Regions from separate parts of the Homo sapiens genome. Here regions 2, 3, 4 and 5 are each linked to region 1. The links come from fine-mapping of genetic effects on gene expression. A gene starts in region 1. Each other region holds a variant in brackets. All regions are shown on one strand. Distances are between the middles of the regions. Region 1 holds the start of ARHGEF7 (Rho guanine nucleotide exchange factor 7). Region 2 overlaps ARHGEF7 (Rho guanine nucleotide exchange factor 7). Region 3 overlaps ARHGEF7 (Rho guanine nucleotide exchange factor 7). Region 4 overlaps ARHGEF7 (Rho guanine nucleotide exchange factor 7). Region 5 overlaps ARHGEF7 (Rho guanine nucleotide exchange factor 7).

Region 1 (5,101 bases):
AACGTCCTCTCTGCTCCCTCCACCCTCTTCCTAACTCTGAAACAGAACAAATGAGCGTAATGGAAGAAACACATTAGGGCATGGTTTCTTAATAAAAGACATATGGGAAGCCCGAGGCACCCAGCCACGTTTTAGTTCTGCCCTCATCCCCAGCCTCATGGCCCATGCCAGGTTGTGAGCCTGCAGAGGCGAAGGCTGCAGGCCACTTGCCCTCCGCTCACTGGCTGTCAGGGCACTCCTGCAGCAGAGGTCAAGCGAAGCCCCTGTCATGTCCACATGAACATTCAGTTAAGTTTCCAAATGCTTCTTTTTAAGGAAAAAACATCCTCAGACTCACATTCCCACATTTAAGTAAAAGTTATTCAGCATGTGTGCTTTGTGGCATAGATTATCTGGTAAGCATGAAAACACCAAAAACCCAGATAACTGGCTGGGCGTGGTGGCTCACGCCTGTAATCCCAGCACTTTGGGAGGCCTAGATGGGACAATCCCTTGAGGCCCGGAGTTCAAGACCAGCCTGGCCAACATAGCAAGAACCCATCTCGAAGGAAGGAAGGAAGGAGAAAGAAAGAGAGAGAGAGACAGAGAGAGAGAGAGAAAGAAAGAAAGAGAAAAAGAAAAGAAAGAAAGAAACCCAGATAACTCTGCCTAGCAAATGGAAAAAGCTCACAAAACTTCTGAAACACAGGGATCTCAGAGGCAGAAAACGGCTAATATTTTACTCCAAAAACCTACCTTTGAACTCCAGAGAACCAGTAACTGTGTCTACAATACGCTGCCTTCACATTAAACTTTCATTGTGACAGAGTCAGTTTAACACAAACCAACTGGAGCTCAGGGGGAATCAAAAACAGCTCTGACCTAAGAAATTTCCAGATGACTGTAGTTTTAGAATATGTTGAGTTGTTTCAACTTGGCTTCTGCAAGCTCAACATTTTATTCGTTCTTCTCTTTGTTGTTTTAGAGATGAAATGAACGCTACGGTTTTCTAGGAAAATCTTTCTATAATTTAAAAGAAAATGATTATTGAAGTCGGCCAATCAATATTAATACAGTTAATATGCCAAACAACATATTCTTTGATGGCGACATGTTTTTATCAATACAGCATATGACACTTCTTAAAGCTTTGCTCTTAGGGATGGAACAGAATTTTATTTAAGCCTATTTTGGTGAACTTTGCATGCATTTCAACACTTTTCAACATCTGTCTTTCATTACCAGAGGTACCAGTATCCAAACAGCAAAGTATTTTGAATGCCTTGAAAGTCAGCTCCTGCTCCTCAGTCCTCCTGTCTTAAATCATAATTTCACTGTGACATCAGGTTCATTTTTAAGGAACATTTTTATTTCATGGACAGGCAGGCAGCCATTCACTCTAATATGCAGATTCTGTTTTCATAAAGATGTTCCAAGTAAGAAAAATAGCTAAAAGTGGAATGCAAGCCAAATTCATATTAAATAAAATGTTTTCTGACCTCATTTAAAATGTAGCAAGAGAATATGTACATGTGAATGAAAAAAATTAAACATTTTACTTTTTCAAGTCACTTACGTGGCATTTTATTTACAAGTTGTTGTCATCCTGTATGGGGGCCAATACACCCCACTTAAAAACTGAAATCCTTCTTCCTAATTATGGTACACTTCAATTTCTATATTTAACACCTTTTAAATAACTGTTGATCTTAACGCTATATATTGGCCACCCCCACCCCCACCCCACCCCCCGAAGAAACACCCTGGGAATAAGATTTTAGTATTTTGAGCTACAGGGAGACATCGTTTTTAGAAACTCTCCTGCCTCCTCGGCCCTGCTGGCCGGCTTGTGGGCGATGAAAACAAACTTTAATCACTTCCAGAGATTCGGGTCAGGGTTCACACGCTCCAGCCTGGGAACCACCAGCCGGAAGGGAGAAGCAGTGCCTGCAGGACTAAAGGTTCTGTTCAGAACGAGGGAGGGACCTGAGAACGAAATCTAGAATTTTAACAAGCCTTGAAGAGTGCCAGGACTTAGACCCTGTGTCTGCCGTCCTCTCGGCTCGGATAGGTGGGGAATTTTCTCGAGGGGAAAGTAGTAGATCGTTTCACAGCGCAGCCCTCAGCTACAGATGCGTGCCTCTTTAAAAATACAGAGCAACCGGTCAATTAACCTGGGAGGCGAAACTCACGCAACGCCACCGGCAAGAACTGTCCACACAAAGCCAGCGGAGTGAGCCGCACCGCGTCGGAACGCGGTTTCCGATGCGGCTGCTGCCAGGGAGCGGGGCCGGCCCCCCACGCGGAGGGGCAACTTAGCGTTCGGGCGGCGCAGAAGCCCCGTCTCCTCGCTGCGGTGCACTCTCCTTCCCGGGGACCCCCGCCGCCCGCGCCGCCCCTCCCCCCGACCCCGCTCCCCGGCCCCCTCCCCCTGCCCCGCACACAATGGCGCCCCCCGAGCTCCCGCCACGGTCCTGGCGCCGGCCGCGCCGCCGCTCCGCGCACAAAGGAGGGCGCACGGGTTTCCCGAGCGCGGCCGGCCTCAGGTGCTCCGCGCGCATCCCGGGCCGCAGCGGGCCGGACCGGGGGGCGCGGGCGGGGGCGCGGGCCGGGACTTACTTTCTCGATGGTCCCGGGGAGCAGGCGCTCCAGCAGCCTGCAGAGGACCACCCCATCCTTCAGCGACGCCTGCAGAAAGCCCTCCGGGTCCGAGATGGTTTTTTTGGGCGACTCCAGCACCCCCAGAGTGATGAGCCACGTAACGGTTTGCTCGGCGGAATTCATCGCTGCGGCCCGGGAGGCAGGCGGGGAGGGGCGCGCGCCTTCACCTCGGAGCGGCGGCCCGGCCCGCGGCCCCCGCCGCCGCCGCCGCCGCCTCGCCCATCGAGCGGCCGGCGCCGGCGATTGGCTCGGCGCGGCCCAGCAGGTCCGGCCCGGCCCGCTTCTCCGTGCGCCCCGGCCCGCTGTCAGGCGCCTTCTCAGGAGCGGCTCGGGAACCTGCGGGCGCCCGCCGCCGCCCCCCGGCCTCGGCCGCCGTCGCCCAATGACATCACCGCCAGGAGAAGAAAGACGCGGCCGTCCGCCCGGCCCGCGCCCGGCCCGCGCCGCCCCGCGCCCTGCGCAGCCTCCGCTCCAGGCCGTGCGCGGGGCGGCGGCGGCGGCTGGGAGCGGGCGGGGAAGGGAAAGGGGAAGGGGAGCGGGGAGCGGATGGGGAGGGAGCCGGGGGTGGGGGCGGGCGCGCACCTGCGCTTACCTGCCCCGGGCCCGCCGTGCGCCCCGCGCCCCTGGCCGGGGCACTCGGAAGCCTTTGTTTATGTTTTGAATTCGTGAGCGTTGAAATGATGAAGTACTTCCCAGAATGCTCTTTTTATTTTTGCCGGTTTTATTTCAAGGTGGCGGGGACAGGCTGAAAACGAGACGTTTGTTTCGCTTTGCTACCTTGCAAGCCGGTCATGACGGAACAGAAATGATGGTTCCATCTGAAGCCATATGGGTCTGAATCGGGAGGAACCGACTCTCCGGAGCGCGGCGCCGACCTCACCGGCAGGGCAGGGGCCTGCGCGACTCTGCTCTAGACGGACGGTGACGCTTCAGACCCTGCCGGGGGAAGGTCAAGGAAACGGCGTGGCCTGAAGTGGGGCTGTGCAGAGGGCCGGGCCGGGCCGGGCCGGGCGCCTGGCTGCGTCTCGGGGACGCCGAAGATCTGGGCTGTGAAAGCAGCAGGCCGAACCTGGAGAGCCCAGACGGCAAGTGTCGCGTCATGCGCGAGCTTCCTCGAACAACTGATGACACGCACACATTGACATGCGAGGAAGAAATGGAGCCTCTTCTTAAAAGGACACGAGTCTCCACTCACTCCATCCACTGTCCCTGGGCGCTCCCCCAGTTTGCTCGCTATGACCCGCGGGCAGTTTAACAAGCAAAGCACTTAGTCTATGCCAGGCACATACATTAATCCATTCAATGACAAAGGCTAGAAAGCATATAAAGCTTCCAAAAATAATCAGAGGCTTAAGTCGTCTCCCCCTGCCTTCTGCCGGTGGATTTCTCTTGCAATCACTAATTGCTTTTATTTCTAGCCTTGAGTTAAGTGGTTAAAATTTTCTTTGCAAATACAAAAAATATTCAAATGGCAGTATGAATTCTGGATTACGAGGACAATGTGCTCAGTGATAACAGCGACTGGTTAGGAACCGTCACAAAGTGCTGTCTACTGCCTCGCCTCCCATCATGGTCCCCTTTTACTGATCAGATGCCGAACAAGTGGCAGAGATAAGACCCAAAGCTCGGCTCCTACCAGGAAAGGCATACCTAACCCGTTTCCTACTGCTGCCCTATAAGCTTTCTAGGAAACAGGAGGGCAATTAACAGCTACATCAAGGCTTGTACCCAGTGTCTTCGTGGAAGGAAAGATGTCAACCCGGGGCGTGGTTGTACACCGAGACTTCTGTTCACTTTCCTTACTGCTGAATTAGAGAAATAATTTAATGCAGTCCTTACCATTTCGAATCCTACTAAATTCGGTTTGATACTTATAAGGTGGTAGACTTGAGTAAGATTCAAATAGACTCAATTAAATGGTCCTATAGAAAGCCAATTCTAGGGAGTGACCTTACGAGACCAGTGAAGCAGAGAGCCAATTCTTGTCGGACTGGAGACCCACAGTCCAGGTATTACAACTCGTCTTTTCTTGGTGGGGAGAAGCCCAGACTTTTAAACACTTTATGGTTACTAGTTGCGTTCTTTTATGTTGGGTATTTATTAATTTCAGAAAAAGAGTTTACTTGGAAGGGATTTTAGAAAGTAACATTGCTCAAAGCTAGATATTTTTAGGTGCTTAATTGAGTTGTTTTAGTATCCAAAGTGGGCATTTTGGTTAAACTTTCCTTAGCACTTTTCCAGGTTCCTATTACAGAGGCCACGCGGAGTGCAATCTGGTGCCCATCACTTTTGGGCTATTGGGTTAGCTCGAGTTAAGACTATTGTCTAAGGGGAAGTTTAGCCCTTTCTGTGGCTCTCCTCTGGACTTGCCTCAAGAGGTGGAGAATGGCTTTCCACGCAAGCCTGTGGCTTCGCTTCCTTCGTTTCTAATGAGAGAATGTCAGCCTCACACCCAGCTTGG
Region 2 (5,101 bases), 170 kb before region 1:
AACTGTTTTCTACAAAATTCATGAGTTATATTCAAAATAAAATAAAATAAATGCAAATAAAAATATTTGCAACACATTTGGAAAAACGGCGAACATCCTAACTTTATAATGATTATCCTACCAACCCGTAAGAAAATTAGTATCCCCACTCTCAAACTGAAAAAAGGGCAGGAGATAGGAATAAGGAAGTCACAAAACAAGAAGAGTTCTAAGAAAAAATGTCCAATCTCGCTAAAACAAGAAATGAAAATTAAAACATTTTCGTGTTTCCACACGCCAGCCAGATGAAAACAAAAGGCCGACAACTCTCAGTGTCGACGTGGCCATCCGTGCCTGTCTGTTCCCCACACGGCAGCCCGTGGTCCTGTGAAAACCCGGGCCCATCATCTTGTCTATGGAACCGGACTCTGGCTGCCTGCTGCTCAGGGTGCTGTGCTACCTCCCGCTCTGCCAGGGGAGCTTGGGCCCACACAGCGCACTGTCCCTTGGGCACAGCCTGGGGTTCCTGCTCAGGGTCTCTGCAACCAGGCCTGGAGAGCTCCTCCCCAGACACCTGCTTGGCCTGCTTCCTCAGCCCCAGGAGGCTGCTCAAATGGCGCCCTGGCACCGAATCTCCCACCTGTCCTCCCCACTGGGTCTCTGCAGCACTCCATGGCCCACACATTGTTCACTTGTTTTGTTTCTTGTCTGTATCCTCCTACTAAAACATAGGCTCTATGAGAACAGGGATCTCTTTCGGCCACACTGTATCCTTCCCACCCAGCCCACGAAGGTGCTGATGAAGCACGCGTCCATGAACGATGGTCTCAGCTGCAGCCGGCCCCCGGCCCAGCTCAGTGCTGCCCCTGGATCTGCTGAAGGAAGTGGCCCACAGAACAGCCCTCTCAGAGAGAAGCCCCGGCACAGCCAGTAAGCAACAGAGCAGGCATCCAGCACCAGCTCCACTTCAATCACTAGACCCCAGGGCCTCACCATCTCATCAGGGGCCCTGGTGGTCAGGGACCTGGACTACCTAAGGAGAAGGACAGTCAGGATGGTGACTTATACTGCCATGGACATCAGGTGACAAGGACAAGAAAAGAATGAACACCCCAGCACGGTCACCTCACTGGGCTGATTGATGATAAGGTGGCGGTGAGGGGAGGCCAGCAGTGGCATGGCACAGTGAGCGTGTGGGACGGCTGCTGGGCCTCCTCCTGAGGCTGGAGGAAGTGAGCAGTGAAGGCAAAGGACCAACAAAGGCTGAGCTCAGACACAGGGGCGGGGCAGGGCAGAGCCCTGTAGGACAGATCCTGCAACTTTCCCAGAGCTGGCTCTCTCTCCCTGGGCTGCACCCATCAGTCCACAGCAATCTGTTCACGTGCACCCCTTCCCAGCAGTCACCCCCAGGAAAATCACTTACTTCTGAAAAGAGCTCCACTTATTCAAAAGCTATCTACCGAGCACCTAACAGGTGCCAGGTGCTTGCTGCGAGGCCACATAGGAACCCAGAGCTGAGTCAGACCCCTAGGCCTGAGGAGCAGACAGGACAGGTCCAACAGCAGAGAGACCAGCAAGAGAACAGCACGGGTGGGTGCTACCCACAGGAGAACACAGCAGGTCACGCTTCTAACAGACACAGGGTGCTTTGGGAGATGCTGGCACTTCAGGAAGTGTGGGTGGAATATCTTATAGGCGAGAGGGAGAACCAGAAGAGCAGGAGAGCCCTCCAGGTCCGGCCCCAGCTCCTGGATGAGGAAGGGGCTATAAGGCAGTGGTGCCGGGACTGGCACGGAGGCTTCACCACTGACACAAAGGCGCTTCTCCTGCTTGCTTGGGTAAATGTTACGTGGCTTATTCCTATCACTGCCTCAAGGGGCAGACCTTACTTTTGTTTGGAGTCTTCAGAAAGCCACCAAGCCTCCCTCTATCCCAGGAAAGCCATGGCCTACGTGACCAGGAGGCCACGTCCTCCACCACACGGACCGCAGGTACTCACTTTTCCGGGACGCGAACTCCTCATCTGAAGGCTTCCGTTCAGGTTTGCGCTTGGGCAGCAGCTTTTTCATGGTCTTAGGGCTCTTACTAAGATCCTAGGGAAAGACAAAAGAAAATGCTAACATACTCTAAAGCCAATCATTTTCACTGGCATATCAGAAAGGCTGCTGTAAAGGTATAAAACCCCAAATTATTATAGCCACTGATAAGAGCTTCTCGCCTTTTCCTACTTTGATTTTTCTTTACCAGCTTCTGAACGTTAATTTTTAAAAATCAATAGGGCATTTTCAGTATTAGTCATTGGCTAATTTTTTTTTTTTAATTCTAATAAAACCCCTCGTGTCATTTGGGTCCTGTTAGTCCTGTGATGAGAGGTGTCACCAGGAGGCAGGCTGGCGCTGGTGTGCACAGACATCCTGCACGCTCCTGAGGGAGGAGGAGAGGAGGGGGCAGCTGCTCCCTAGGACAGACCTATCCCCTGGCACAGCTAACTGGAAAGAGAGGAGGAAACTAAGGTTGTCATTAAATGACAGATAAGTAAAAAATAATTGCTTTAAGAAAATATTTGAAGTTTCAGGGAGAAGAAAAGGGAGCGAGTGCTCAGCTACCTGACTCTGAGTGCCAGGAGCACAGCCAAGCTCGGCCAGGGCTGCTGTGCAGGGGCCACATGCACACCAGCTCAGAGTGTTCACAACGGAATGGCCCACCCCTTACCTCTTCAAACAGCTTTTCAAACAAGCACAGAAGACGACGGCAAAAAACAAAGTGAGCAAAGCAAGTCCCAACAGAGCAGGTAAGGTGTCAACTGTCAAGCACGTGTTAAATACCGATATCAAAAAAAGGCTGGTTTCTGCATCACCCCAACGACATAAACCATCACGAATGCTAAACGCGAGACCAAGACTCAGAAGATGAGATGTGCTATGGAATGAACCA[G/A]GCTGGAAACAGAGGAAACAAAGCTTGGTTTTTAAAATTATCTTTAAAAGTCTTTTCTTGGGAGCTAAACAATGGGTACACATGGACATGACCATGGAAATGACAGACCCTGGGGACTCCAAAAGGCGGAAGGTGATGGGGGTGAGTTTTGAAAAGCTACCCATTGGGTACAATGTTTCCTATTTGGGTAATAGGTACCCCAGAAGCCCAAACCCCAGCATCACCCAATACAGCCACGTAACAAACTCTGAATCTAAAATAGCCTTCAAAAAGTTAAACAAAAGTATTTCTATAAAAAATTGGAAAGCTCTTAGAAATGCAGCAGCAATCTGTTCCAGAAGACACATTTATACACATGTGCTCATGGCTTCCCTAATTCGAAGCAAATTGAGATGGAGAGCCTTGAAGAGCCAACGCCCGCCCCTCACGTGCTCCGAGGGCACCTGCAGGCGCAGAGGGTCACAGAGCACACAGCACACCTGAGCCAGAGCCAGGCAGAGCGGGCTGCAGAGCGGCCTCCACGAGCCTCCATGTCCTCTTCTCACACCCTGCAAGATCACTCTCCACGCTACTGCTGGGCGGTGCTCAGCAACACTGGACGGCAGCTGCTCGGTGTGAGCCCTTCTCTCCCAGTGTGGAGTTGGCAAAGCAAATGCAGCCAGACTTATCAAAAAAAATTGTTTATCTTCACTTCAATACCCCTTCCGTTGCCCTTTCTACTTCTTTGCCCAACAGTTTTATCCCAATTTTCTTCCCTAGTAATTCAGTCTCCACCAGTTCTTGTAGTAGCTCACTTTTTCTTTAGACTGTGCACACTAAAGTATACAATAAGGAACAGCAACATTCTTCAAGTAACTTCCCATGATAGAAAATGGAAATTCTGACTTGCACACATGATTACCTGAAAGATATCATAAAAACAAAGACTCAGAACAAAAAATGAAAAGCACAGATCCTAATTTCTCATACAGTACTTTCCTGTGGGCCTTAAAACCCCCAGGGCTGCCGGCAAGAATGTAGAAAAAGTCTGCTCCAGTTCCCTTGGCAAATGTGGCCTTGACCAGACACAGAGGCACAATGCCAGGCAAGAGCGTGTCACCATCCTCACGCTCACTCACACCCCACCAACGGGCACTGCTGCTCACACTGACGCGCACGATACCCACACTCTCACCGCCACTCCTCATACCTCACCACCATGCACGCTCAACTGCTTATGAAAACAACTCTCATCTCAATTATCAGCTTCCTCAGGTGAAAGTACTTCTCAGAACAGATTTCTAAAGACACTTCCTTTCCTCATCCAAGCTGGTTTAGGTAAAAGTGTAAGGAAGTGTTAACACTTCTATTTATTCATTGGAATCGTACTTTATTTGCGCCTAGCAAATATAAAAATGCCGGATGAGAACAGAGACAAGCAAAGACCGCATCATGATTTCTTATGCATCAAAGGGGGAAACCGCCTAAGTGATTGTTTTTCATTTGTATTAGTAAATGTTCTCTTCATCTCAAATGGCTTCTGGATGACAAAATGCAGGGCTCCTGGACAGGATCCCCAACCTAGAGGAGGGGTCGTTAGACGCAGCAGACAGCGTGCAGATGCTGAGCGATGGCCTCACACACAGGGAGTGAAAGCCACCTGGGCTCAGCGCCTTTCCAGCTCCTGGCCCCTGGCGGCACACTCCTCCGGCAAGTGCAGTAAAGGCCCCCCTGTGCATGGCAGAAAGGAGGGGGACCCTGCACATCGCCTTCCCACACAGGTTACCACGGGCCTCTCAGCAGCAGAGCAGATAACCAGAGAACCAAGGCAGACCCCCCCTTCTCAGTTCTCTAGGAGTTAGGGTGCATTTTGCTGTACACAGAAGGCCCAGCACGTGGGCACACCCAGGGCCCGAGGCATGCTCACCGTCATCTGGCTGTTTGAGTGGTCAAGGGACCTCACCTCCTTGTAGCAGAGAGCAGCTGAGGGCCGGAGGGGAGGCGCGGGCCGCAGGCAGCTCAGGCTCCAGGGCTTGGGTGTTTTCGGAGGCTCCAGGGGTCCCCAGTTGATGGTGGTGTGCGGGGTGCCGTGGTGGGAGGGGTGGGGCAGCGTGTGGTAGGCGGGCGTCAGCGGCGCGGGCTTGCTGTCTGCGTGCTTGCTGGACGGAGTGACCGGGTGGGAGGGGAGCTGCCAAGGGCACAGAGCGGG
Region 3 (5,101 bases), 89 kb before region 1:
TTTCTTTTTTTTTTTTTTTAGATGGAGTCTCGCTCTGTCGCCCAGGCTGGAGTGCAGTGGCGCGATCTCGGCTCACTGCAAGCTCCGCCTCCCGGGTTCACGCCATTCTCCTGCCTCAGCCTCCCGAGTAGCTGGGACTACAGGTGCCCGCCACCACGCCTGGCTAATTTTTTTGTATTTTTAGTTGAGACGGGGTTTCACCGTGTTAGCCAGGATGGTCTCGATCTCCTGACCTCGTGATCCGCCCGCCTCGGCCTCCCAAAGTGCTGGGATTACAGGCATGAGCCACCACACCCGGCTGTGATTTTCTTATTGTTTGTTCATATTAAAAGGATCATTTTTAGATTGTAGAGACAGAGAAGGCATTAAATAATGTGACAATTTTCATTAGTTACATCCATCTTCATAATCCTGCCATTTAAATTTTTGTTTCCTCGATGCTTTCATCTGAACAGTCCTTTAAACCTCAGAAGTCAAGCTGTGAACACGCAGCCACAGCCACACCTCTGCCTGGGGTCTGCCCCTGCTCCCAGGGATGGGGGCCAGTGCCTCTCGCCGGGGCATCAGCATCAGCAGCAGCAGCATCAGCTTCCAGACAGCAGTCAGAGCACACATGCGCTGGGAGGCAGCACCAAGGACAGTCCCTGCACCACCGATGAAGCCTCCGGGAGCCAGGAACTGCAGCCCCAAAGCATGCATAACCCCCGTCTCTCCTCAATGTGCAGTGAGGCAAGTACACCCCCCCCTCTGAAGGGCCAGACGAAGCTGAGAAGCGACCCCGACAAAATCAACTCAGGAGGTTTCTGTTTGAAAAGGACACGGCACTTTCCCCCACAAACCTGATATTTAACATCCGTGAAGGTAAATAGGAAAAAAAAATTACTCTAATAAGACCAAAAAAGCAACTAAAAAGTTCCTTCCTTTTGAGCCACACAGAAATCCAAGAAAGAGCTCCTCAGGGCTCATGGAGCATTTCCTCCGGGGACCTTGGCATCATGGACAACATGCACCTTCCCTCAGAGGACCTGTCTGAACAACTCCTGTCTTCGCTGTGGCCCATGAGAGGGGCACACCATGTCCCCAAAACCTCCTCTCCACTTCAGTACTAATGGGGGCTAGGACCACACACACCATGTACCTGGGTGCCACAGCCCTCAGGAGCCCTGGACAGGTAGTGTGGACTTTACAGGCCAATCCACGAGCCACTCCCTTATCATGGTCACAGCTCAAAACTTCTGCCCACTAGATACAAATTTTAACCAGCATACACTCAGTAAAAACTGAGAGAAAGGTGCTTCTAGCTCCAACACAGCCCATGAGCCTTCCCATAAGAACTAGACACTTTTCTCCTGCTATACGTTCAGGTGAGAAATCTCTCCACCCACAGAAAGGAAAACACCTGATATATACCAGAACATTTAAAGAAGATTCTATTCTAACAAGGCAAATAAAATATCACAGCAAAAGGAACAATCAAAACGTAATGCAACAAAAGCTTATTTTTTAAATTCAGTAATGCTCCCCTGGCTTTGGTAAAACAAGAAAACCAAAGGTGTCAGCCCGTATGTCTTCCCACCCCCTCGAGTTCAATAAAAAAGAGTCTTACCTGCTGTTACTTTATTTAGAGTCACTAAGGAACTGAGGACCTTGTTAAAATTCTGCCCCTGATACAAATCATTTGCATCAAACGTCTGAAAGGAAAAATTAAACAAGCAAAATTAGTAGAGTCTTATGTTGGGTGCAGGATGAACTAAGTTCTCCCAGCAACGCGACGATGCTCAGCCTGAAATCCTAAGGAGACCGCACAACCTGCGACAGGGAGACCAGCACGCTCAGTCTCTCAGTCCTGAGGTAAGAACCCAATCAAAATTCTCCTACTTAGGTGCAGGGTCCCCCCTCGGCATTAGGCCAATTCCCTACCCAACACCCGCCCCTGCCCCTCTGGAGTGTGAGCTCATTCACGGGGGCGGGGCGGGGTGGGGGGGTGGGCTGCTGGCATTCAGCAAGCAAGCACGGTGCTTGCGCAATCCTCCTCTCCTTAGATTAACACAGAGGCCCCAGGCAAGGCGTGCTACAGATGTTCTTTCCTAGCCACAGAAAATAAGGGAAAATGACAGTCGATTCCAAAGCTAACAGCAGCAAAAGAAAATGCGGACATCAGAGAGCAGAGTGGATGTGAGGGTAAAAGGAGGACAGACAGGAGAAGCAGATCCCAGATAGGAAAGGGGCAGGGACAAGAGACCACCACCCTCAGAGC[T/C]CTGAGGCCAGAACCAGGCAAGCCCACAACCGCATCCCCTCCAGTCCAGGGCTATCTAGAGCCCTGGGACCACGATGGAGCTGGTCACATTGCCACTGGCAGGCACTTCCCACCACCATCCTGGAGCTTGGAAAGGTAAAGCACATTGGTTTGCCTAGGTATGTGGCAACTAGTGTCTAGAACGCGTGTGCACACACACAGCCATGTCAAAACAAACAGAGCTCTCATCTCAGATACTGCCCAAAGACTACATATGGCTTCTGATCACCAAATAACCTCAAGCAAAGATAAACAGTCAAATCGTCCACAACTATGTTCCAGAAAAATTAAGAAAAAAATTCTTTCAGAGGTGCCAATAACAGAAAGATACATTTAAAAACCAAAACGTGTATCCTGTTGCCATATGTTCTAACTGAGATTACCGGAAATAAGCATCAGTGGACAAGGGCCCCACCTTCTCTCCAGGGCTGTCGTCTCCTCCTGTCAGTCCTGCCCTCTCCCCACACCTCTAGCAGACCCTGCCAGAAGCCCCACTTCTTCCTCTTCCTGCCTTCGGTCCCTTCCCTTTCCTGGCTAATCCTTATTCATCTTGCTTCCTGACACAGCCCTGCCTTGACAGCCTGGCTGCCCCCACCACACCCGGTCAGGTCCCCAGCCAGGCTCCCCCAGAACACGTGTCATGATAGTTTGATGGTGGATGTCTACAGGCCTCCCTAGACTAAAAATCTGCAGTGGCAGATTGTACATCTCCCAACACCCAGCACAGGGGCCGGTGCACAGTGAAAAGGCATCCGAATGGAGACGTGCACCAGCATCCAACCAGCCACCCACCCTGCAGGCACCGCATGCTGCTGTAATGAAGCTCACGCCAAGAGAAGCTAAGAAAAGTGACACCAAATGTGAAAAAGTCCTGCTGTATTATTCAAAATTCATCTGCAGCTAAAGGCCTTCTGTCTATAATTTTCCAAATAAGTAAAAATAGTCATGAGATGTTTAAACATAAATAAAGAAGAACCAGACTTTGAAAAACTACCTCAAGAGAAAAACCCACCAAATCACTAAAAGAGTCAAGAAAGGAGCTGAAAACCAGAGGTCACTTTCTTAAAGTTCACAAGGAAATATCAGATGGAACCACAAAACGTAAAAGGAAAGCTGTGAACACATCTAAGCATTCTATGTGCTTACCGATGCCATTTCTAACAAAAGGCACAAAATATAACTGATTTCATGAAGCTAAATCCTTCCTTTAAAAAACAGTCCTTAGAACAGATAGTCTTTAGAATCATCTTTCATACAGAATACATTTGTTGTAATATTTATTATTTAAGAAGAAATCCCAACTCAAATGAGAGCAGCATCTAGGCTGACATAACCACCTATAACAAATACGGGTTAAGCTGCATTTTTTAAAAGGAATTAAATAGGCCTCAGCTTCCTTATATGCAAAACATAAAATTTCTCTTCATCATAACATTTTTAAATAGGAGATCTGAATGTCTTTCAGCTCTACAGATCTAATCTTAGTGCTCTGAAAATTCAAGTCATTTTTTATTTTGTCAATTTTGTATACTACAAAAAGAAATACATACATAAATTTCTACTAACCTTCATAGTGGCAAGGCAGCAAGTCACAAAACCCAGAATAACAGGATGTGAAAAATGTGAAGTTTCCTGTTATTCCAGAACTATATATCTTTCTTACTTGGATACCCAGGAAGCATCTGATTGGCTGAAACTGCCCACCAATGGGCTTCAATATGACATCAGAGTTTAAGTGAATACACACACCACACTTCTCAACAGGAAGCTAGACAATGAGATGAGGCAAATCCTTACCCCTGAGAGGGGGAAAATGCACATTCTCAGCCAACAAAATGTTTCGATTGAAGTGCTTCTCTAGAGAAAGATAACAGACTATTTCCTAAAATAGAAATCTATTCAACAAAAAACAGAAACAGAAAAATCTGAGTACAGAGAAATTTTGTACTATGGGAATAATAGGGAAGTCTCAAAACTTTTATAGAAATCTCTCTGCAAAAAGTAAATCAGTGTGTATGTAAGAATTACCATGACATTTAGCACACTAAATTGTTCCCTAGGGTTATTAAAACAAGTGTCTTAGACGGGATTCATTCATTCCCCACCATGACTTGCTGGGTGCTTTAGCAGTATTTCCACTCTTGGCAATGGCAAGGAGCAGCAGGAGGGAAGGAAGTACAAACCATATTCCATTGTCTCCAGGCCTCCTTTTGGAAGCCTCAGCCTCAGGAGCAGCAATTCTCAGCAGGAGCTACATGTTAAGACCTCCTGGGGGGCTGTAAAAGGGCAGGATACTCCAGCAGTGTTCTGGAGTCCAGAGACTCAAATCAAAATGCCAACCCTCTCCAAGTGACTCCAACACACAGCCAAGCGTGAGAAGCGCTCCTGGTGAGGTAAGGAAGGTCATTAGGAATCCTGCCCAGCTGAAGCCTCAATGCCAGCACAGGCACACTTCCTGCCACCTGCACTACCCCACACAGGCACCATGCTGGGGACAAGGGTGGCTGCACAGACACACTTCGCACCATAATACGCTTTAGGATCTATCCATTTGAAAAAGCGTATTTCAAACACTCACCCTTACTTTTACATTTAAGTGAATTAAATGTGCAATAGAATGATCCGATACTCCCAAAATGAAATCATCCTACCAGTTTTCCACCAGAAAACTAACATTAAAATTCCTTAGCTTATTTTTGGTATTTTGCTCTCAATAGAAACTACATAATCAAATACAATACCAAATCAGGGATAAAAGAAGCCCAGAGTATTCAAACAAGGATAGAAAAATACCTTCTTAAAAGT
Region 4 (5,101 bases), 190 kb before region 1:
GAGTCAACGGCTTCCATGGGAAAGCATCACAATGAAGAGCATGTTTCGGAGTCAACGGCTTCCATGGGAAAGCATCGCAATGAAGAGCATGTTTCGGAATCAATGGCTTCCATGGGAAAGCATCACAATGAAGAGCATGTTTCGGAATCAATGGCTTCCATGGGAAAGCATCACAATGAAGAGCATGTTTCAGAGTCAACGGCTTCCATGGGAAAGCATCACAATGAAGAGCATGTTTTGGAATCAATGGCTTCCATGGGAAAGCATCACAATGAAGAGCATGTTTTGGAATCAATGGCTTCCATGGGAAAGCATCACAATGAAGACCATGTTTTGGAATCAATGGCTTCCATGGGAAAGCATCACAATGAAGAGCATGTTTCAGAGTCCACTGCTTCCATGGGAAAGCATCACAATGAAGAGCATGTTTCAGAGTCAACAGCTTCCATGGGAAAGCATCACAATGAAGAGCATGTTTTGGAATCAATGGCTTCCGTGGGAAAGCATCACAATGAAGAGCATGTTTTGGAATCAATGGCTTCCATGGGAAAGCATCACAACGAAGAGCATGTTTCGGAGTCAACGGCTTCCATGGGAAAGCATCACAACGAAGAGCATGCTTCCCATGCCATCATGGCCCCATTCCTTCTTTGAGAAACTAGAACTGTACAATTGCCAAGGCTGTCATTTCCAAAACACCTTGTAAAAATATGGCAAATTCTATCAAAGTTAAAAATGCACAAACGTTTCCAGAAGTTAATCATTTAGCTGTATGTGCACAGTTGCACAGCTGTATACATAAGGATATTCAGTAGAGCATTTCTGCAATAGCGACTGCCCCCTCCCAAATATCCACTCATAGGTGACAAACTGCAGGGCACTCAATCAGGGGAATATTTATGCAGTGGTCAAAAATGATGAATGGTTCAAACTACATATACCCATATGGAAAGATAAGGTTCAAAGAGGCAACTTAGGAAAGAATATACTTAATGCAATCTCACTTGCTGGGAAAAAAGTTAAAACACAGACACCACACACTGGCATTTGCTCAGAAGAATGAACAGAAGAACCTAAACGCAGAACAGGAGCTACTTCTGGGGAACAGGGTCAGGGCGCTGGGAGGCAGAATACATGCTTTTTACTTTGTATCCTGGTATACTGTTTCTATTTTCCGTATCAACAGGTATTATTTTAACAATTAAAAACTCTGGTACATGCTAGTTTTTAATTAGGAAAATAATACCTGCTTATGGGAAAAATATAAATAGTTCTGCAAGAAAATGAAGTATACATGGCCCAGTATACCTTTAAAAAGTGTACAGTTAAAAAACGGTATACATGGCTCAGGTACATCCTAGTTTTTAATTACTGGTGAGGTATCAAGTACAAATGCCTACCTACTCCACCAGTAAGATGAACAATTCACATTAGGTGTCTTATGCATCGCACGTTCTTGTCACAATGCAAATCAACAGAAATGGGTTTTTGAACGCCTACTTGTTTTAACCTGAAATGACTAAAGTCCTTGAAAGTGTAGATCCTGACTTCTTTTGAGCTCCTACAATAAGCCAGTGGGCTGGGCACTGCGTGTGGCTACCTGACCTCTGGCTGGCTGAAATGACATGCAGCGGAGCTGTAGACACACCTGAGCCAGGTACACGGACCATGGACAGGAGACCCCGCTTGGTCCTCCCGGCCACCCTTCCGGAAGACACCCTCGTTTGCACCACCGCCACACAGGGACACACACGAGCAATTTCCTTTTGTCTTATGACAGCTCCTAAAAGGGACCCCACAGATATCTTCAAGAAAGTTTCGCTTACTTGATCCCACAAAACGGTGTCCTGAGCGCCTTCCAGAATGCAGGTCATTCCTCCAGGCATGGGTGAGGACCTGGGGGCTGTGCCTACCAGCGTGACCTGTTACTTCAGCTTTTGTTCCTAAGACTTCCAGTGTTCTTTCCTTGTCTTTTAAAAAAAAATCTTCAAATTTTCTCAAACTCTAGACTTTAAAGGAAACATGTTATCTTCAGTATCAAAGACAGACAGAATTTTCAAATCTAAAACAGCCCAAAGAAACTGTAAAGCTAACAAGCACACAGAAAACACATCAAAGAAGACGAAGCGACACATTCTGTGACATAAGAAAAATAATCAGTTTAATAATTACAACAGTGTAGCATCAACATTGTAGTAGTCAACACTAGGACA[T/C]TGTCTGTGACATTTAAATTAGGAGTTTCTCCACACTTGTCAACAGGCGCCCTGGGTGTCCCAGAGAAGTGAAGAAATGATTGGCATTAAGGAGTCCACACAACCAGGGCAGGCATTCAAGGTCCCAGACGCCCAGCGCATGTGGACAAGCACAGACGCCACTGAGTGTGAAGGAACGAGCTTCTGATGCTACATTCCAACATCGCTGAAAACTGAAAGTGCTTCACATCTACAGGATAAGAAATGGCTTCATCTCCTCATCCATACAAGGTGAGAGCAAAGGAGTAACCCTCGGGCAAATCGTGGCCCCTTTAAACGTTTATATCAAGTTCCCACCCCCTTGGGAGGTCACACGGTGAAACAGACACAGTTATATACAACAGGGCAGGTTTTTAAAAAGAGTTGCTCTCAGACGCATTTTTCCTGCTCCCTAAAAAGCCGAGGAAGATACTGGATCCACAGAAAGAAAAGGCAATGCCGTAACATGAGGCCCTCATGGCCGCACCGTCCAGGGGAAGGGCTGTTAAAAACACAAGTATTCTTGTGAAATACTTCGATCTGAGCATTAAGGCAGGTCTGCAGGAGATCCGTCCTGGGGACTCGGACAGCAACGCTACCGGCTCCGAGAGGACAGTTAATGTCGCCTCCCGGCAGAGGGGCGGAGAGATCAGACAAGAGTTGTTCCTGAGTTAAAACCTGCTACAACAGCAAACTCCAATAAACTCAAGTTGAATGGTTTCCCACTGCAATGTCTTACGCATCACCAAAAAATAACTTGTAAAACTCAAGCTTACCAAAAAAGAAAGTGTTGATCTTTGCTTGTGCCCGCATGAGTGAATGATCTGCTAAGTTGAGGAAGCTGGCAATTCTAGTGAAAAGTCCAGGTGAGGCCAGGTTCTGCAGCATGGGGCAGGTCCACGCTGAGCCCAGGCAGACAACGTGACCAGTCACGGAAGGAAGCCAAAGGGGCTTGCTGGGCACCAGAGACTGTAATTAGCAAGGGCAAGGAAGAACCGTAAACAGCAACACAACACTCTCCCAAGGTGCCCAGCTCAAAGGCATCAGTACACAAAGGATTCAGGTGCAGTTAAAGGGCAATTTGGCCAATAGACAGAAAATCAGAGAGTCAAATCTGATGCGCAATGAGTTGTTCTGAGACCAGTAATCCACGGTGCTGCAATTTGGGTTTTTAAAGATAGAACACTTGTTCTACGGAAAAGTGTATCTCACTTTAAAACCAACCTTTTCACAGGAAAGGAAACCAAAAGCAAAGTCCCTGTGGTCACCCTTATTTATTGCTGAAGCAGAACGAAAACCTGCTCCACGGGCCGGGCTTCCTGCCCAGGACCGCACAGGCTTTCCAGAGCCAGCCTGGGCCCAGCGAGCCGCGGTGAGGACAGGCTTCGTCTCCTCTGCACTGGAACACAGTGGGGGAAACGTTCCCTGCTTATGCCTATGTTACTTAGTGGAACCTAAGGTGTATATTGCTTTATTCTTGCTGAAGGAGGGGATTTTACTTTCGGTGAGCACTGAAGCCTGCTGGCTACGGCCAATGGTGGAGGAGACCTCGGGATGAGGCTGGCCTGATGACAAAACTCCACCCATCAGTATCAGCCTGCAGCATGGCCTCCATCTGTTTTCATCAGCTGCAGTGACTTATAATAAATAATACATTCTATTTACAGGTTCTAGTAAGATCTCTCTTTGAGGGAAGACAAAACAGTGTATTTTGTTGTTACTGAACTAGCCTATACAGAACCGTCTGTGTCCTCCCAAAACGCAGCAAACTCATCTGAGAATCACAGTACTCAGACAGCGGACAAGAGCAAACACCTCTAGGTGGATGCGGCAGTGCCGTATGGGCCTTCCTTGAGGTCAAGACTGAGTCTGTCAGCCAGCAAGTTGCCCTCAGAAACCCGCAGGTCTGGGACTGTAATGCTGCTTTAAGAGAAGACTTCTGAATGGGACTGAAGTGTATCTCTGCAGGTATAAATAAGGTTATTTAGAAATACCGACATGGGGGGTGCTGCCACAGCACGGTGGAGGCCCTGGTGCTGCGGAACGAACCAGGCATCCACCAGGCTTCTGCTTCCGGTGGATGCGGGCATGGGACTTCTTATTCACGTAGCTGGAAAGGACATTCTAGCATGGGGATTAGCCCGGACAGAACCACCACAGGTATGCATTCAAAATGGGATATTTACAAGAAACATGTATATATAATATTTATATATTCAATTCAAAGTCTGGAAAAACAAGACTTTTAGTCAGTCACTGAACTTATTGCAGAATGAGGTAACTGAGATGTTCACAGAGTGGATTGATGTAGCTCAGGTCCTCAGAGTCAATCCCTCCTGTCTGGATTCATCAGTCATGGTTTGATCGTCTCCATTCGCAGAATAAGCTCCAGCTTTTCTATATACAGAGAGCAAGGTGGCGCCCCACCCAGCCCTGCCCTGTGGTCCTGAGTGCACCCCGACTTGGGTCAGGGGTGCCCAGCTTCACCTCAGAACTGGTCTTCAACAGAAAGAACTGAGGACATCCCTTATAGATTGGTCTCATCCCAGGCAGGATCATTCATGTTCTTCAGGACTTTCCTCACCAGCTTCTCCAGGTCTTTGCGGGCTCTCTGTTCTTCCTCTAGAGATTTCTTCATCTTTTTGTTGTCCTGTAAATTAAGCAGACCACAGGGTGTTCACTATCTTTGGCATCGCGTAGGGCTTCCTTTCCCCAAATGTGTATCCTTGAGGAGCTAAGGCCTCGATTCATGAAATCCCACGTGAGCTGCCTATGGGCTCTGAGGTCGTGGGGATCCACGAAGGTCAAACACCTGGACAGGGTGGCAGCGGTGCTCCTGACTGTGCTGCTGTTCCCGGGATGGAAATGGT
Region 5 (5,101 bases), 180 kb before region 1:
TACTGTGTTTTGGCAATTTTATGCAAAACACAATTAATATAGCTTATTATATACTTGTGGCAAGCGTTATTTCAAAGGGAACACCATTTAGGCCATTTGCAAAGGCCTGGTGATGGCTTAAACCTACCTTCTAGTTCAGACTCTTCATCCTTTCATTAGAATACTAACTGTACAAATAAATATTACAGAATTGTATGAACAGAAGATTCTATTATCAGCATGACTGAAGTCCCACAAAAGTAGAAACAATGGCCCTCTGGATGCCACATCGCCACTGCCACAGGAGAACTGTCTTTTCAGGCTTGTGGCACTAATACTTCTTAACCAGATCACAAAAGCTAATGGTGTTAGACATTCAAAACAAATGCAAAGAAAAGGTCAGGTTATTCTTCTGCAGTGATCTTAGCATCAAGAAAAAGCATCATCAAAATGCCTTTAACTGGTACAAAATGGAATGATGGTAAACCGTCAAAACTTTGGTGTATAGAATATCAATGAAAATGTCCCAGTAAGATAACCAAATGATACTTGGTATTAAAGGAAAATCCAAGTGCAGCAACTGTGTTTGAGTGTTGTGGTCTACACAGCCCATGACACAGGCAACCCACGCCTACGAGAAGGCAAAGGCAGCTTAGCCAGTGCGCTAATGAGTAGTCTCGAGGCAAACAAAAAAGTGCTCCCTGACGCAGAGGACTACCGTATGTAATACAAAACCAAAATCGCTTCTAAATCCACTTATAGTAAGTATAGAAACTTTGTAGTTATCTTATTTCTCCAAAAATCCCATTTACTATCTGGCTGAACATACATAAACCCCATCTCTGCCGGAGATTAACACTGGGCTCTGACTGCTCCTCAATGTTCTTATTTTTACTAATTGGTATGAAAATACAAAATCTTCCAATGGTGTGAGCAGTTCAGTAGCTACTTGGGAACAAATATTTGGAATTAACAGCTGCCCTGATGTCTCCTGTGCCATTAGCTTGTTCCATGCTGAATGAAGCCACCCAACTTTCTAAACAACGTGCTACTGCCAGGAGCTCCCTGGCAGCTCTGGGCTTGTGAGCAGCAGGACCCGGCTCCCAGGACAAGACTGATACTGCATCAGAGTTCACTCTGCACAAACAAGATCAGAACACTGAATACGTGGGTTTGGCGAAGGAGTGGGCAGTGGGGAAGAAAGAAATCACGGCCACCTGGAATTACAGCCACCCTGAAGAAGGAAAAAATGTTATTCTCAATTTACTATGGCATCTTGTTTTCTGAAGCTGGTTTCAATGAATACTTAAAACACAACCGTAAGGTTCCATTTTAACACCAAATAGAGCGTGCATGGGACAGAACACAATTTGGCCCCTCAAGCAATGACTAGGTGTGGATTTGATGCTACAACTGAATGCAACAGGTCACATTCAGTGCTTTTTGAAGCAGAAATTGGTCTGAGTGAGGCCAGTGAAAACTCCTTACAACAAATCCCAGGAAAACGGGTGAGTTTTTTTTTTTTTTTTTTAAATAAGTGAGCCACATGGCAACCTAGTAATTCTTCAATGAACTTCAATATCCCATTACAATGAGGCATTGTGGTTTTATACTATGGGGTTGCTGTAAATGGAGTTTCACTGCAGCTGGTTGCTGAAAATAATGATGTGTCCATGGCTCTTCCAGACAACATAAGTATGGATGTCAGGGGTGGGGAGCCGGGGGAACTGAAGCCACAGCACTTGACTTTGTAAGTATTCCAAATGCCTCTACTACAGTCCAGTAGTCTACACTTGCAGAGGCTGAATGCTTCAGCTTTCGGGCTTTAAACTGTTAGTGTAGAGATTTTACTGTAGAGTGGTACAGGCTTGCTATGTGCCTTATAACAGAAATCACTGCAATTCAGGGAAGTTTGGGGTGAAGATGCGAGTGAACATCTGAGCCATGACAGTAAGCTCTGCCTTTGGAAAGGAGAGCTCCCACTTCACGGCCACAACGCAGCACACAGAAGAGCACAGAGCCGTGAGGTGGAGACAAGCTCTGAACACACGTGACGCCCGCCCGTCTGTGCACCTGCCAAGGCCCAGAGCCCACATGCTGTTCTGCACGATTACCAGAACACAGCCGTTGGAACTGGGCTCACAGCACCTTTGCTGCATATATTCTTCTCATCTCTCCACAACTACTTGATCAGTGTTCATAGCACTTAAAAAATTTAGGTCCCTACAGATAAGGCCAGAGTCTCCTCCATGGTTCTGGCACTTAGATCACAAACCTGTGTGATTTCAGTATAAAATAGAAAAGTGTTCATACAGCTGTATCCAGAAAGAAATCAAACAGTTGCTACACTGAGAATAAAAAAACCATTTGGAGCTATAAAACAACAACTACCCCTTACGAAGAGCACCCTCGGATGTAGGCTCACGTGAACACACCACCTCCCTCCAA[T/C]AGTCAGTCATTCGAATGTATACTCGCATCGGCAGTTAAGCCTCCACAAAGTACAATGGGAAATATCAGGAACACTCTCAAAAGTTGTTAAAATATCACATAAAAGAGACAAGGAACAGCAAGAAAACATCTAAGAAAAGCAGGCTGCGATACAACAAGCATTTGTTAAGAAAAGCTCAGAAGTGCATTAGTTCTGGTGAGAGATATATGAGCAACAGCTCTTACGAGATGTAGAACCCATTCTGTAACTATGGGCTGTCCATATACTGTCATAGTCAGAGTCTTCCGAGAGGTCTGAAGGCTCCAAACGAGAAAGGCTACTGCGACGCCCCAGGGAGTCTAGGCTTGGTTGGTCATCATCAGCCAAGACGTGATTATGCATCAGGTCAGTGCCTTGCCATGCTAAGACGGGCGGGCGGAGGGACAGGCGCGACAGGCAGGGGGTGAGGAGGAGAACGACAGGAAGAGCCACAACCAAAACATGGAACAAAAGCAAAAGGTGATGGGAAGAGAAGGAAAAGAGAAAATAGTGTTAAAAATTGGCAACAATGCATATTTTTCCTTATATACGGCTGGGTTTCACAATAACGAACTTAGCAAAACCCTTAGAATAAAACTAGATCGATTATTATCTAATTAAACCTAATATACAATGTTTCAAACTGCTTTTTTAAAAAAAGATATTGCTCTAAAGCCCTCATTTAAGAAATCTTTTACAAATCACACCCATGTCCAAAAGATTATTCTATAGACATGTGGCAATTAATCAATTCTATTCCACATTCAATTAACAAATAGTCTCATTTAGGACATCATTTGGGAAAGGTGCCATTTATGTGGCTAATTAAAAATTGTTTCCTATCAATAAACAGATGTATCAAATGCAAAATAATTTCAAAGGAATTCTGACGGGCTTTTTCAGCTGGCTCTTTGCCAAGACCATAAACCTGAGAGTGGGTCTGGACTTACCTGATCAATCAATAACCACTGTGAGAACTCAGAGGGCAGAAAAGGATTGGGCAGGGCCCACAGCCCCAGAACCCACCCCCTGCTCCCAGGGCGCGCTGGAGCTTAGCCCGCAGGCAGGGTGCAGTGGGAAGCTGGGTCTGCTGGCAACACCGGCCACCCCAATGCAGACCCTCTGCTGTCAGGAAGAGAGACATGAACTGGCAACGTCCCAGTGTTAAAAGGAGAATGACAGAGGAAGTGGCACAACATGTCAGGAGAGAAATAATCACGAGTGGCTGGCAACTATGAGCACTGCCCATGGCCAGGCACCTGGGCTGAGAGGCAGGCTGGGCCGCCAGGGTCTCCCTCCATGCAGAGGCGGGGATGCCCCTCGCTAGGTGAAGGCAAATCACAGTAGCCCTGGCCCCTCCCTACTCCTGCTTCTATCAAATTGACCTCTGTTCTCAGACTGCGAGAACTACATCATAACAGACTGTGAGGGCCGTTACTTCCTGGAGTTAGAAATCAATACCAAGGAAGTTTGGTTTACAAAATCTTCTTGGCATCCAAATGTGTGTATTGAACAGAGCTGCATTTTAGGTAAAATATATTATCCTTCTAAAACCCGTTTTACTAAGCATTTAATGTAAAAAGAGCTGCTTTCACTATGATCCCATTTCCAGACACCTTGAGTAAGTATACCACCTTTCCAGCACAAGCGAGCAATTTCTCCTATTACTCCCTAGTTTTGAGTGTTAGGTTTAAAGGGCATATATGACTGCAAGCTCCCTGAAGCCCCAGAGTGGTTTGCCCATAATATGAATTAAAAACAAAAATCAATGTATCGTTCAATGCTTTTCTTGCACAGGAGAAATGGAAGTACAGAATACAGGCAATGTGACAAGAAAAGAAAAGGAATTGTGGGCCATTCCCCTTAGGCAGCCAGGGGCCGTGAAGCCGCAGCGTATCACAGGACCCTGGTCATGAAGAAATGTGGTGGGCACTATGACACATACAAAGCTCAGCCCTCAGTCGGCCCTCACCCACAGGGGATTGGTTCCAGGACTCCCCTTGGACACCAAAATCCTCAGACGCTCCAGTCCCTGATATAAGATGGCATGGTGTTTGCATTGTACCTACACACAACCTCCCATATACTTTGAGTCATTTCTAAATTATAGTACCTAATACAATGTAAATGCCATATAAATAGCTGTTATAAGTATAATTATTTTTTATTTGTATTATTTTTTACTGTTATATTGTTACTTTTTATTGTTTCTTTTTTCTGAGTAGTTATCTGCAGTTGGTTGAATTCACAAATGCAGAACTCACAGACACGGTTGGGTGGCCAACTGAACCTGGTCTGTTCATCTAAGACTACTTGGTTAAAATTTTATTTCAAGTAACTGAAATTGAGATGACAAAAAAATCTCAAATTCAAAATCCAAAAATTTATGGCCACATTTTACAGCCTATTACTTAAAACATGATCAATATCAAATTATAAAAATGTAGTACCTTTCATCACAACAATTTGTACTTAGACGTTATTGTGTGATTATACACATATTTATTCCACCTTCTGATGGGTTACCCAGGCCTTTCCGTTTCTCTATTTCTCTCCTATTCTGATAAGCAGTCACTACAAATGGATATTTTTCACTAAAGTATGGACAAAAAAACCAACAGTGTTGACCCTTGGCAAAAAGTCTTAATGTCATAG

What was found. PIP is the estimated chance that this variant, and not a neighbour inherited with it, causes the effect.
Region 2: its variant is the best candidate, but not a certain one, in a credible set for the expression of ARHGEF7 in caudate (GTEx, PIP 0.62).
Region 3: its variant is the best candidate, but not a certain one, in a credible set for the expression of ARHGEF7 in monocytes after LPS (Fairfax 2014, PIP 0.56).
Region 4: its variant is the best candidate, but not a certain one, in a credible set for the expression of ARHGEF7 in whole blood (TOPMed, PIP 0.51).
Region 5: its variant is the best candidate, but not a certain one, in a credible set for the expression of ARHGEF7 in caudate (GTEx, PIP 0.54).

What each region holds. Positions count from the first base shown.
Region 1 is chr13:111,113,189-111,118,289 of GRCh38, reverse strand. ARHGEF7 (Rho guanine nucleotide exchange factor 7) reads right to left here and starts at 2,980. Exons shown (of 22, transcript NM_001354046.2): 1 at 2,599-2,980. The coding sequence starts at 2,763. It overlaps ARHGEF7-AS2 (ARHGEF7 antisense RNA 2), which reads left to right and starts at 2,612. Exons shown (of 2, transcript NR_046667.1): 1 at 2,612-2,743; 2 at 3,372-4,478. RefSeq lists a silencer at 3,018-3,107.
Region 2 is chr13:111,283,118-111,288,218 of GRCh38, reverse strand. ARHGEF7 (Rho guanine nucleotide exchange factor 7) reads right to left here. Exons shown (of 22, transcript NM_001354046.2): 16 at 4,856-5,080; 17 at 1,979-2,072. Among named protein-coding and RNA genes, the nearest start is that of TEX29, 35 kb to the left of the region's middle. The variant G/A (reference allele first, on the strand shown) is at 2,914.
Region 3 is chr13:111,201,879-111,206,979 of GRCh38, reverse strand. It overlaps ARHGEF7 (Rho guanine nucleotide exchange factor 7), which reads right to left. Exons shown (of 22, transcript NM_001354046.2): 3 at 1,607-1,691. Among named protein-coding and RNA genes, the nearest start is that of ARHGEF7-AS1, 56 kb to the right of the region's middle. RefSeq lists enhancers at 115-614, 615-1,116, 4,235-4,284. The variant T/C (reference allele first, on the strand shown) is at 2,258.
Region 4 is chr13:111,302,771-111,307,871 of GRCh38, reverse strand. It overlaps ARHGEF7 (Rho guanine nucleotide exchange factor 7), which reads right to left. Exons shown (of 22, transcript NM_001354046.2): 22 at 2,140-4,881. The coding sequence ends at 4,759. Among named protein-coding and RNA genes, the nearest start is that of TEX29, 15 kb to the left of the region's middle. RefSeq lists enhancers at 3,409-3,468, 3,549-3,618. The variant T/C (reference allele first, on the strand shown) is at 2,214.
Region 5 is chr13:111,289,846-111,294,946 of GRCh38, reverse strand. It overlaps ARHGEF7 (Rho guanine nucleotide exchange factor 7), which reads right to left. Exons shown (of 22, transcript NM_001354046.2): 19 at 2,653-2,829. Among named protein-coding and RNA genes, the nearest start is that of TEX29, 28 kb to the left of the region's middle. The variant T/C (reference allele first, on the strand shown) is at 2,428.